Homo sapiens: one gene and its partner. The protein of the gene in region 2 purifies or fractionates together with the protein of the main gene of each other region. This does not show direct contact. Each region holds a gene or a part of one and is shown on either strand. Other genes may lie near its edges.

Region 1 (5,029 bases), on a different chromosome or scaffold from region 2:
AATACAAAAATTAGCTGGGCATGGTGGCACACTCCTGTAGTCCCAGCTACTCGGGAGGCAGAGGCAGGGGGCAGGAGAATTGCTTGAACCTAGGAGGCAGCGGTTACAGTGAGCCAAGATTGCGCCATTGCAGTCCAGCCAGAGTGCAGACTCCAGAGCAAGACTCCATCTCAAAAAAAAAAAAAAAAAAAAAAAAAAGAATGAATGAACAGATAAACGAGCATGCTTTTCCTCTAGTATTAGTATTAAACACAACGTATGCCTTTTACAGCCCATGTATTCTGTGTAGGTTCTTTCAAAAAATACGTCATTACCCCAGCAGCGATGATAGCATAGCCCATTTGCCTCAGTAGTTGTGAGTAGGGCAGACAGCCTTACTTCAAGTTAGTCACAGGATTGCTTTTTATGTCTACCTAACCCAAACCCAACCAAATCCTTCATGTGATAAGTTCTCAGAACTCAAAGACCATGTGACATTTATATGTTATTCTCCTAACGTGCAAAGAAGGAAAAAGACTCTTTACCGGCTCCTTTACCCAATACTAATTGTGTTTCAGACAAATAAGAAAATTAATTTCAGGGAGCTAGAGCATGGTGATTTATCATACACAAACCAGTTTATATATAATAAATACACTTTTTAGGTTTATGATTTATCATATACAGACCATTATTTCATTTGACCCTCACAACGACGTTGTGGTTAAGTGAGCATTCCTGCTTTAGATACAAAGAGACAGGTTCACCGGGGCTCTGTGATGAGCCCAGGTCCCTTAGACAGTAGGAGGGGCAAAGCTAGGACTCCGGGCAGCATGTTTGACCCCAAGTCCAGCAGGCCTGGTTTTGTCCTCAGCTAAGAGATGACAGTGGGCGTGTCATCCTCCCGAGGACGCACAGATAGCGCCAGGGCAAGCTTTCCCTGTGGCAGTGGCTGCACACTTGGTCGTAGGTGTTGGGCTGAGCCTTCCTGGTCATATCGTTTTCCCCCTTTCCATGGGGTTTGTGGTGAGCAAGGAGGGACCAGGTAGAGTGGAAGGAGGAAAGTTGGGAGGCGCCGAGGGAGGCATTTCTCTTTCTGCCAAATGATGAGTGTGCGACCAGACTGCGGCAGAGAACGAGCCATGCTCTCTGAGTGTAAAAGCTGCATTGTGAGCACACGTGACGATCCGAAGGAGTTAATTCTCCCCCGGGGGCTGACTTGTTCCACAGAAGGGGCGACAGGCCTGGAGAGCAGTTTGAAGCCTTTTCCTCCACGAGGGCTGTGGGATTTGACTCCCGCAGTGCTGTTGTTGACAGTTTCTCTGTGTGATGGGGGAAACCTTTGCTGAAGCCTTTTGAAACTTTTGATGGCCGATCAAAGAGGAGTGATTCGTGAAATCGGTTATTTTTCCCATCTGCTGAATGTGAACAGTAAAACGTTTTTGCAAAACCAAAACGGGGAGTTCATCTGGCTTCAAAACAAGGAGACCAGCCCTGCAAAGCAGCGTTGACTTTCCACTGGACCCAAAAAGTGCCGTTTTGACCTCAGCCAAGCATTGCAGGCTGTGAACAGCAGAGTCAGCTTTTGAGGATCCTCCAGAACCCTCTGGAAGCCCTATGAGGACACTTCTTAGGTTTTGATACACTTGACTCTATCCAACACTTACCTCCTTGCCTTGGGTCTCTGGGTTTAATTTCCTGCTGTGTTATAGCAACTAAAGGGAAAGGAACGTAAGTAAAGGCTCTGAAGTTGCACTTGCATGGCAAGAGGCTGCAAGGAGCTCAGGTGTCTGGGTCTGCAGTACCCAGTGTGTACCCAGAGCTCGGTACTGACTCAGTACGTGCCTGGACTTCCAAACACCTTCATGCTCATACCTCATGTTTTTGTCATGTCATTCTTGTGGGACATTAGGGCTGGGGAGACCGGGATGGGGAGAAGCGAATTGCCCTGTCTCAGGTACCTTAGGAAACCAGGGGAAAGCTGAGCTCTCATTTGGGGTGGCCTGACTTCCCCATCCTGGTCAGACCTTGTGGATTGTGGGCCACTTTGAAAGAGGGAGGTCTGCACGTTGGAGGTGGTGAGTGCAGCAGGGTGGAACCCTGTCTGCCTGCACCAGGCCTTGGTGAGGGGTCCTGCTGTCTCTCACTGGTGCTGGTGAGTAACCAGGTGGGATCCAGAGAGCAAGGAGGGGTTGCGCATTCCCGCTGGGTTTTGGGCCTCATTTCGTTTTCCCTTCTTTGCCCATAACTTGTATGATGGTTTCCACGTGCACTTTTTTTTTTCCAAACTAATTTTTTTTTGTTTCTTTTGCTTCTGTGGCAAAGCAACAAACTGTAGGCCTTTCACAGGCCCCCTCCACAAAGCCCCTGGGCCCACCTCTGCTTTGTCTTGGCTGTTTCTCTATGTAACTCAGCGGCACCGATGGGAAGATCGGTGTTTGATGTTTGTGTGCATTGGGGGCGAGGTGTGAGGGGAATCATGAAAAACACGAACATTTGGTATTTTCAAATAACCCTTCTCCCGGGCTGTTCTCTCCTGGCAGGATGACAGTGCCGATTTGAGGTGCCAGCTCCAGTTTGCCAAAGAGGAAGCCTTCCTGATGCGCAAAAAGATGGCCAAGCTAGGAAGGGAGAAGGACGAGCTGGAGCAGGAGCTCCAGAAGTACAAGTCCCTCTATGGGGATGTGGACAGTCCCCTGCCCACGGGGGAAGCAGGCGGGCCCCCCAGCACCCGGGAGGCCGAGCTGAAGCTGCGGCTAAAGCTGGTGGAGGAGGAAGCCAACATCTTGGGCCGGAAGATCGTGGAGCTGGAGGTGGAGAACCGTGGCCTCAAGGCAGAGATGGAGGACATGCGGGGCCAGCAGGAGCGGGAGGGCCCGGGTCGGGACCACGCACCCAGCATTCCTACCTCACCCTTCGGTGACTCCCTGGAGTCCTCCACTGAGCTCCGCCGCCACCTGCAGTTTGTAGAAGAGGAAGCGGAGTTGCTCCGGAGGTCCATCTCCGAGATCGAAGACCACAACCGGCAACTGACCCACGAGCTCAGCAAGTTTAAGTTTGAGCCTCCCCGGGAGCCGGGCTGGCTAGGAGAGGGTGCAAGTCCTGGTGCCGGGGGTGGGGCCCCCCTGCAGGAGGAGCTGAAGTCAGCCAGGCTGCAGATCAGCGAGCTCAGCGGCAAGGTGCTCAAACTGCAGCACGAGAACCACGCGCTGCTGTCCAACATCCAGCGCTGCGACCTGGCAGCCCACCTGGGGCTGCGTGCCCCCAGTCCCCGGGACAGCGATGCCGAGAGTGATGCGGGCAAGAAGGAGAGTGATGGGGAGGAGAGCCGCCTGCCCCAGCCCAAGCGGGAAGGGCCTGTTGGCGGGGAGAGTGACTCGGAGGAAATGTTTGAGAAGACGTCGGGCTTCGGGAGCGGGAAGCCATCGGAGGCCAGCGAGCCATGCCCCACGGAGCTCCTGAAGGCCCGGGAGGACTCTGAGTACCTAGTGACCCTAAAACACGAGGCCCAGCGGCTAGAGCGGACGGTGGAGCGCCTCATCACGGACACCGACAGCTTCCTCCATGATGCGGGGCTGCGGGGTGGTGCGCCCTTACCGGGGCCTGGCCTCCAGGGCGAAGAGGAGCAGGGTGAGGGGGACCAGCAGGAGCCCCAGCTGCTGGGGACCATCAACGCCAAGATGAAGGCTTTCAAGAAAGAGCTGCAGGCCTTCCTGGAGCAGGTGAACCGCATTGGGGATGGCCTATCCCCCTTGCCCCACCTCACAGAGTCCTCTAGCTTCCTCTCCACTGTGACTTCCGTGTCCCGGGACTCCCCCATCGGGAACCTGGGGAAGGAGCTGGGCCCAGACTTGCAGGTAAGGGGGCTCGTGGCTTCGCCTCCCTGCTCCGCCTTGCTCTTCCTCCTTCTCGCTGGCATTGCTGCACTCGGGCTCACGCTGCTCACGGCTGCTTGGTTATGATTTCAAACCTGCATTGTACTAAAGCCTCCGGGGCAACCGGATCCTCTCTCTTGGTTGGGCTCCGTTTTTTTTGTTTTTTTTTTTTTTAAGTTCTCTTGTATTGCCTTGTTTCTTTTTCCTTTCTCCTGTCTTATTTTTAACTGCGCCGCGGCTCATGGTTTAGAGGCCCTCCCAGACACGAGGCTGAGCCCAGTGGAAGCGATAGGGCTCGACGCATGCCGGCCTTGCTCCTCTCTTGGTATCTCAACCAACCAGCCACCCGCTGAAGAAGCCGTGAGGAGGCTAAGACAAACGCATGTCACAGTCAGGATAATTAGCAGACTCGCTAACGAGCACGTCCCTTCCTGGGTGTGTTTCAAGGGACACAGTGCAGTCCAAGGCCCTAGGCAGCCCAGGCCCCCACTCCCACTGGAGGATCAGCCAAAGCGGGCGAGGAGCACGGTGCTGAGAAGGATGGTTTTGGTGGAAAAGCTCTGCTGGCTCCTGCCGCCCTGCCGCCGCTGGGGAGGGCGCGGAGGGTCTCCGAGGACTGCTGTCCTAGCCTCGCCTGGGTGCATGGCCCAGCTGCCGCCCTGGACTGTGGCTTTGGCTGCTCGACCCACAAGTAAGGAAGGAAGAGCCTCGTTTTCCGTTTCCTTCACGGGTAGCGTGCTTGCGGTTGAGTTCTGGATTCACGCATCGCCATCGCATGTGCCCCGTAACCAGTGTTTTGCACCCCCACTTTCTCTTTTTGCTTTTCAGATGTGTCCACCCGCCCCTTTGCTCATCCTCATCTTGGGTCTGTTTTCTTCACTTTCTTACACCACTGTCTTTAAGCCTGTGTTTCTGTTCGTGCTGTTCTTTGGTCGTTTTCTCAGTCGTCTCCCTTGTCCATTTTTGTTTTCTTTATCCCCCCTCCCTGCCTCCACCCTTGTCCTTTGTTTGTTTGTTTTTTTGTTTAAAATTTTAAAGAACAACAACAACAAATTCCTCCCGTGCACCTAACAGTCCAGACTGAAAGAGCAGCTGGAGTGGCAGCTCGGGCCGGCCCGAGGGGACGAGCGGGAGAGCCTGCGCCTCCGAGCCGCGCGGGAGCTGCACCGCCGCGC
Region 2 (5,029 bases):
TCCCAGCTCCCCAGTTCTAAGAAACTTTTGTCAAACCCAATAGGTTTGGGACACTTCTGTTTAGAATTGAAAGCTGCCAGCTAACAGTAATTCTTCCATAGTTGACTTGAACTTCTGATGCTTTTATTGCCCAGTTTTCTCTGGTGGGTCCAGTGTTTTGTTCCTAGGTGTCTGCTGCGATAAAATGAGGTTGTCTGTAGTATTTAAGGAGAAAAGAGATAAGTTTTTTTTAATTAAGCAATTCCATTTGATTGAAAAAAATCAACAAAAAATAAACACCGTTTACTCTTAGACAAATTCTTCTTGTTTTGTGAAAAACCAGAACTAGTCAGTATCTCCTGCCCCTCCACCATTTTTTTTTCCATTTTCCATTTTCCTTTGAACAATTTCATTTAAGCCAGAGATTTATTGCATGAAGCTGAGAAGAGGATGCAGAATGACAAGGAAAGGGCACATCAACCCTGCTATGCTCTTTTTTTGTAAGCTCCATAGAAACAGCCTGAGAATTTGGCTAGGGAACTTGAATGCTTCAGGGGACAGAAAGAGAGCACTTTCGACACAGTGCTTCCCAGAGTGAGCTTGGCAGGGCCAGGCGGGGCCAAATTCCATCTGCTGCCTTGTTACTCTTGCTTTTTGTGCTCTTAAATGGCTCCATATAATCTTCTACTTACATGTTCCTTGGCTTTTTTCTCTTCAACCTTTTCCAGCTTATTTATTCCATTGACTTCTAAAGGCCGAGTCCTGGGTGCTTATTATCTGGTGTTCTAAATGAAGCAGTAAGTTGGAAGCAGTGCCACCACCCCTGAGTCCCTGAGAAAGGCTGGTCTGTTCTTTTTGGGTGTTTCTCCTAAGCAGCACCCTCCCCTCCTCCTGGTTTTGGTAACCAAAAGTAACAATCCATCAACCTCCATTGTACCTAGAACAAAAATAGCCAATAAAAACGCTGAGTTGTGAAGTCCAATCAGGCACTTCTAACTCACCCCAAGCTCGCCATCTGGAAAAACAGACCAGAAGGCTCTCTTCTACAGAAATGAACTGTGGGGAAATCAAGCAGCTGTGACATGAAGTGAATGAAGTCCACTTGAAGCTGTGGAAGATGGTTCATCCTTTTCCCCAGTTGAGGATCCAGATTTATAACTTCTAGAAAGCCATTTCCAGAAGGTTCTATGTGGCACACCCCTAGGAAAGGCACTAAATGCATGCAAAGGATTTATAAACTTAGGAAAGTAGATGGGTGGAGTCCAGAAAACTGGTTCTGGGTTAATATCTCTACATCTGTCTTGATGACTCATTTCTCCTAACTCCCATTTAGTGCAGGGTAAATGGTTTGAGATGAGAGTTTTTCAATGAAAGGGAAATTTTCTTTCAGTTTACAGATGTATTAGAAGTCCTGACTTTCAAGTGTAATTTGCTTTGGAGGAGGAAAAAATAGTGAAAGAATCATTTTATCTCAATTCTAAGCTACTATCCATTTACTAATAGCTTTTTGGCAAGGAAATAACTGTCACCTTAGGTAAAAACAGTCTTGTTAGATGCAGCCCAATTTCAGGAACATTAAAATGTAAAAAAGTACGTCTCAGAATTGAGGGAGCATGGGAACAAAGACGAGACTTTCTCAGTATTTCTCATTTTTCCTGCAAGGAAAGCCTCGCCTTAGGCATCTCAAGTAAAGTGGCTAAGGTGTAAACTCTCTGGGCAAGATTTCTGTCCTGACTGGGACAGTGTTCTTGGAGGAGACATGAGAGAGTCAGAAACTTCTGCCAGTCATAGAGAGTGATGATTTTGCAGAAGGCCACTGGGTTATTGGCCTACATTTACCACCGACTTCCTTTATGGCCTTTTCTCCACTTCTCCGGACTCAGCTCCTCTGTCTGTACCACGTCGGGGGTTGGGACCAATCATTGTATCTCAAACTTAAGAATCAACTCACATTTGTACTATTACTCATGTAACATTTTTTTAAGTCACCTTTTCTTAAAAGCAAGACTTAGCCTCCTCCAAAGAAATAATATGCATGAAATTTCAACTCTGATATGCTAGGTTTTTCCCTAACATTAATCACATAATTATCAATGTAACAAACATGCACCCACATACCACCTGAAATCATTTTGTGAACCACCAGGAGCATGTGTATCAAACTTTGGGACCCTGAGTAACTGATATGACAGAAGATTTATGCCCTTAGGGGCATCAAAGATGGTGGTTCTTCACATATTAGAGTCAGCAGGGCTGCCCATAACACACACAGGAATAATTTTTGTCATGGTTTAAGGAGTTCATAGGCCCCTTTGCAGTTTATCTGCGAACTCCAAATAAAAGCCCCTACACTAGTCCAACACCCTTAGCATATAGATGTACAAACTGGGATCCAGAGTAGGATGAGTTTGCCAGAGAAGAAAGAGCAGAGGGCAGCCATCCTCTCCTCCATCCCCTGCAAAGGATGCATTAGAGCAAACACCCAAGACTCCTGGACGGGAACAGGAGGGGAAAGCCCTAGAGATTAGGCCTCAGGGAGCAATAACCACCACGATGTTTCACAAATTAACTGTTCTTTACCAGGTACTGAACTAGGTATTTTACATGTGTGATCTTTCAGCCCCAGTACTGGCAATATTTCTTAGTTAGTGGCACATAGAAGTCAGTCTGTTTTCCTGCTGACACTAAAAACTACTTGAAGGCTGATTTGCTACCTTGCAACAGTTGGTTCGATTCTAAGGGCCCTATACTACTTTACCCCACAAGGCCTGCTGCTTGGTAAGAGCCATCAGATTACAACTGGAGGGTGTCAGTTGAATGAAGGAAAATGGAAGCCACGCCATCCCTGGCTTTTACAAAAACCATCCTTGCGCAACATTCAGTTCCTGACGTTAAAAACAAGTAATGCAAAAAGCTGAACTTTGGTAGACATTCGTACTCTTCTGTCAGGAGGAGGAAGATTAGTTAGAAAAAACAAAAAAGGAAGATACTAGCCAGCATCAAGAAGTGGGATATATAAAGGCAGATGGGCAGTGGGAATCAAGTTGCTTCTTAACTCCTTCAAGTTTGGCTCCTGCCTTTACTCTTCCATTGAAAAAAAAGCACCTTTAAACCTCTCATTGATCTTGTAATTAATTCAACCAAATCAACTTCTATTAGGCAACCAGCATATATAAGATGGAACAATTGCAAGGTGGAATAAAGATGAAGCTAAAATTCTGCTAGCTCAGTGGCCCAATGAAATAAGTCAGCTATCTCCACTAAACTTCCTTTGAATATTCTAGGGTCCATTATAATAAAAGGTACACACTCAAATGCCCAATTTCTAAGGACTTGAAAAGCCATAATTTCCCTCCCTTCAAGCCTACAGAGCAACTGCCTAAAGCTTCCCTCCCCAGACAACCCCAGGCCTCATTTCTTTTTCAGTCCCTTTGCTAGCTGCCTGCAGGGCTCAAGAAAGCCCTGGTAGGCCTCATAATGAGGATTTAGGGATGACACTATAGTCCACAGCCTGAATGGTGGAACCCTTACTAATTTTCCCTCTTCCGTGATGAATGTGTGGATGAAGCCGGTGTGTTTTTAATAATGCCACCCCACTTCCAAAACAAATCCCCTGACACAGTCTTTGGACATACCACCCTGAATGCACCCGATCTCATCTGATCTTGGAAGTGAAATGGAGTCAGGCCTGGTTAGTCTTTGGATGGGGGAAGTCTAGACACACCACTGAGAAACATTCACACTGCAACCTGATTCACTGTGCATCCAACATGCCTTCATCCACCTCTTCCCCCTGAACTTCTAAGTCAACTCTCAGGGACTGCTTTCCAAGGGAGCAACCAACCTGGTCAGTGGAAAAAGGATGAGACTGGGAGACAGGAAACGTGGGTCCTGCTCCTGGTAACCATGGAACTTAAGCTACCCACTCAGTCCCTATGTCAGTGTCATCACCTGTAAAATGGCCAGAAAGACATCTATCCTAGCTCAGAGAATTGTTATTGGGAGAACAAGAAATCCATTTACTTACAACTATTTTGATAGGTTTAAAGCACCATAAACTAATAATAGCAACAACAGTGATGGGTAATATACTATTGCTTTCCATGCCTCATCTCATTATCTCCTCTCCCAGACCCCATGGTGGCATTAGTATTTCCATTTTGCAAATGAGAAAATAGACTCAAGTTGTCAACCTAGCCAAGGGCACAAAGCCCGAGAGAGATGGAACCAGGACTCCAACTCAAGGTATCTGACTCTAAAGCCAGAGCTGTTAAAATACAGCTCTAACATACAATAGTTGCTAACATTTATTGAGCACTTATTATAAGCCAGGCTTTGTTCTACAAATTTCACATGTATTGACTTATTTACCCCTAAAACTCCAGATGCAGATACTATTGTTGTTCTCATTTTATAGATACAGAAACAGATGAATGACAACCAAATTTACACAGTTCACAAGTGACAAAGCCAGGCAGTTTTAGTTAAAGTTCTTATCCACTATCCCCATCATACATTATGTGTGTGTGTGTGTGTGTGTGTGTGTGTGTGTGTGTGTGTGTATGCATGTAGATGGAAGTTACTGATCAGAAAACAAGCCCCAGTAATGACCCATAAGCTCAATGAATTAAAGATTCATTGGTTGCCTGGGATGTGTCAGGCAGCCAGGTTCTAGACAAGGGGCTGGAGTTACTAAGATATTTAAACCACTGGCCCCTGCCCTCCAAGAGATGACACTCACATAGGAGAAAGTGCATATTTGCATACTGTAAACATTTTTACAATGAGATATCTATGAAGGGCAGAAGTCATACAGAGGAAGAAATAGTTAATCAATGAGTGATAAGAAAAGGTTCTCAGAATGTGTCATCTAAGCAGAATTTTAACTAAATTTGCTCAACAAAGCATGATACAGCGTTTCCAATAGGTAGACCAACATATACCAGAATATGAAGCAAAATCCATATGGCATGGAAACAGAAAGCCAATGTTTCTCTCCTTCCATTAGAAACACATTTTCGACATACTAGAACTAGCCTACCCCTTTTTC

The links. Proteins that work in one complex are often made in the same cells at the same time.
Region 1: the proteins of PPP2R2B (region 2) and MTCL1 purify together in Homo sapiens (affinity purification with mass spectrometry; 4 studies listed by BioGRID and IntAct, with this or other methods). This does not show direct contact.

The regions. Positions count from the first base shown.
Region 1 is NC_000018.10:8,781,008-8,786,036, forward strand, and holds part of MTCL1 (microtubule cross-linking factor 1), read left to right. Parts: intron 1-2,522; coding exon 2,523-3,836; intron 3,837-4,928; coding exon 4,929-5,029. UniProt on the Homo sapiens protein: Microtubule-associated factor involved in the late phase of epithelial polarization and microtubule dynamics regulation.
Region 2 is NC_000005.10:146,584,772-146,589,800, reverse strand, and holds part of PPP2R2B (serine/threonine-protein phosphatase 2A 55 kDa regulatory subunit B beta isoform), read left to right. Parts: 3' UTR 1-5,029. UniProt on the Homo sapiens protein: The B regulatory subunit might modulate substrate selectivity and catalytic activity, and might also direct the localization of the catalytic enzyme to a particular subcellular compartment.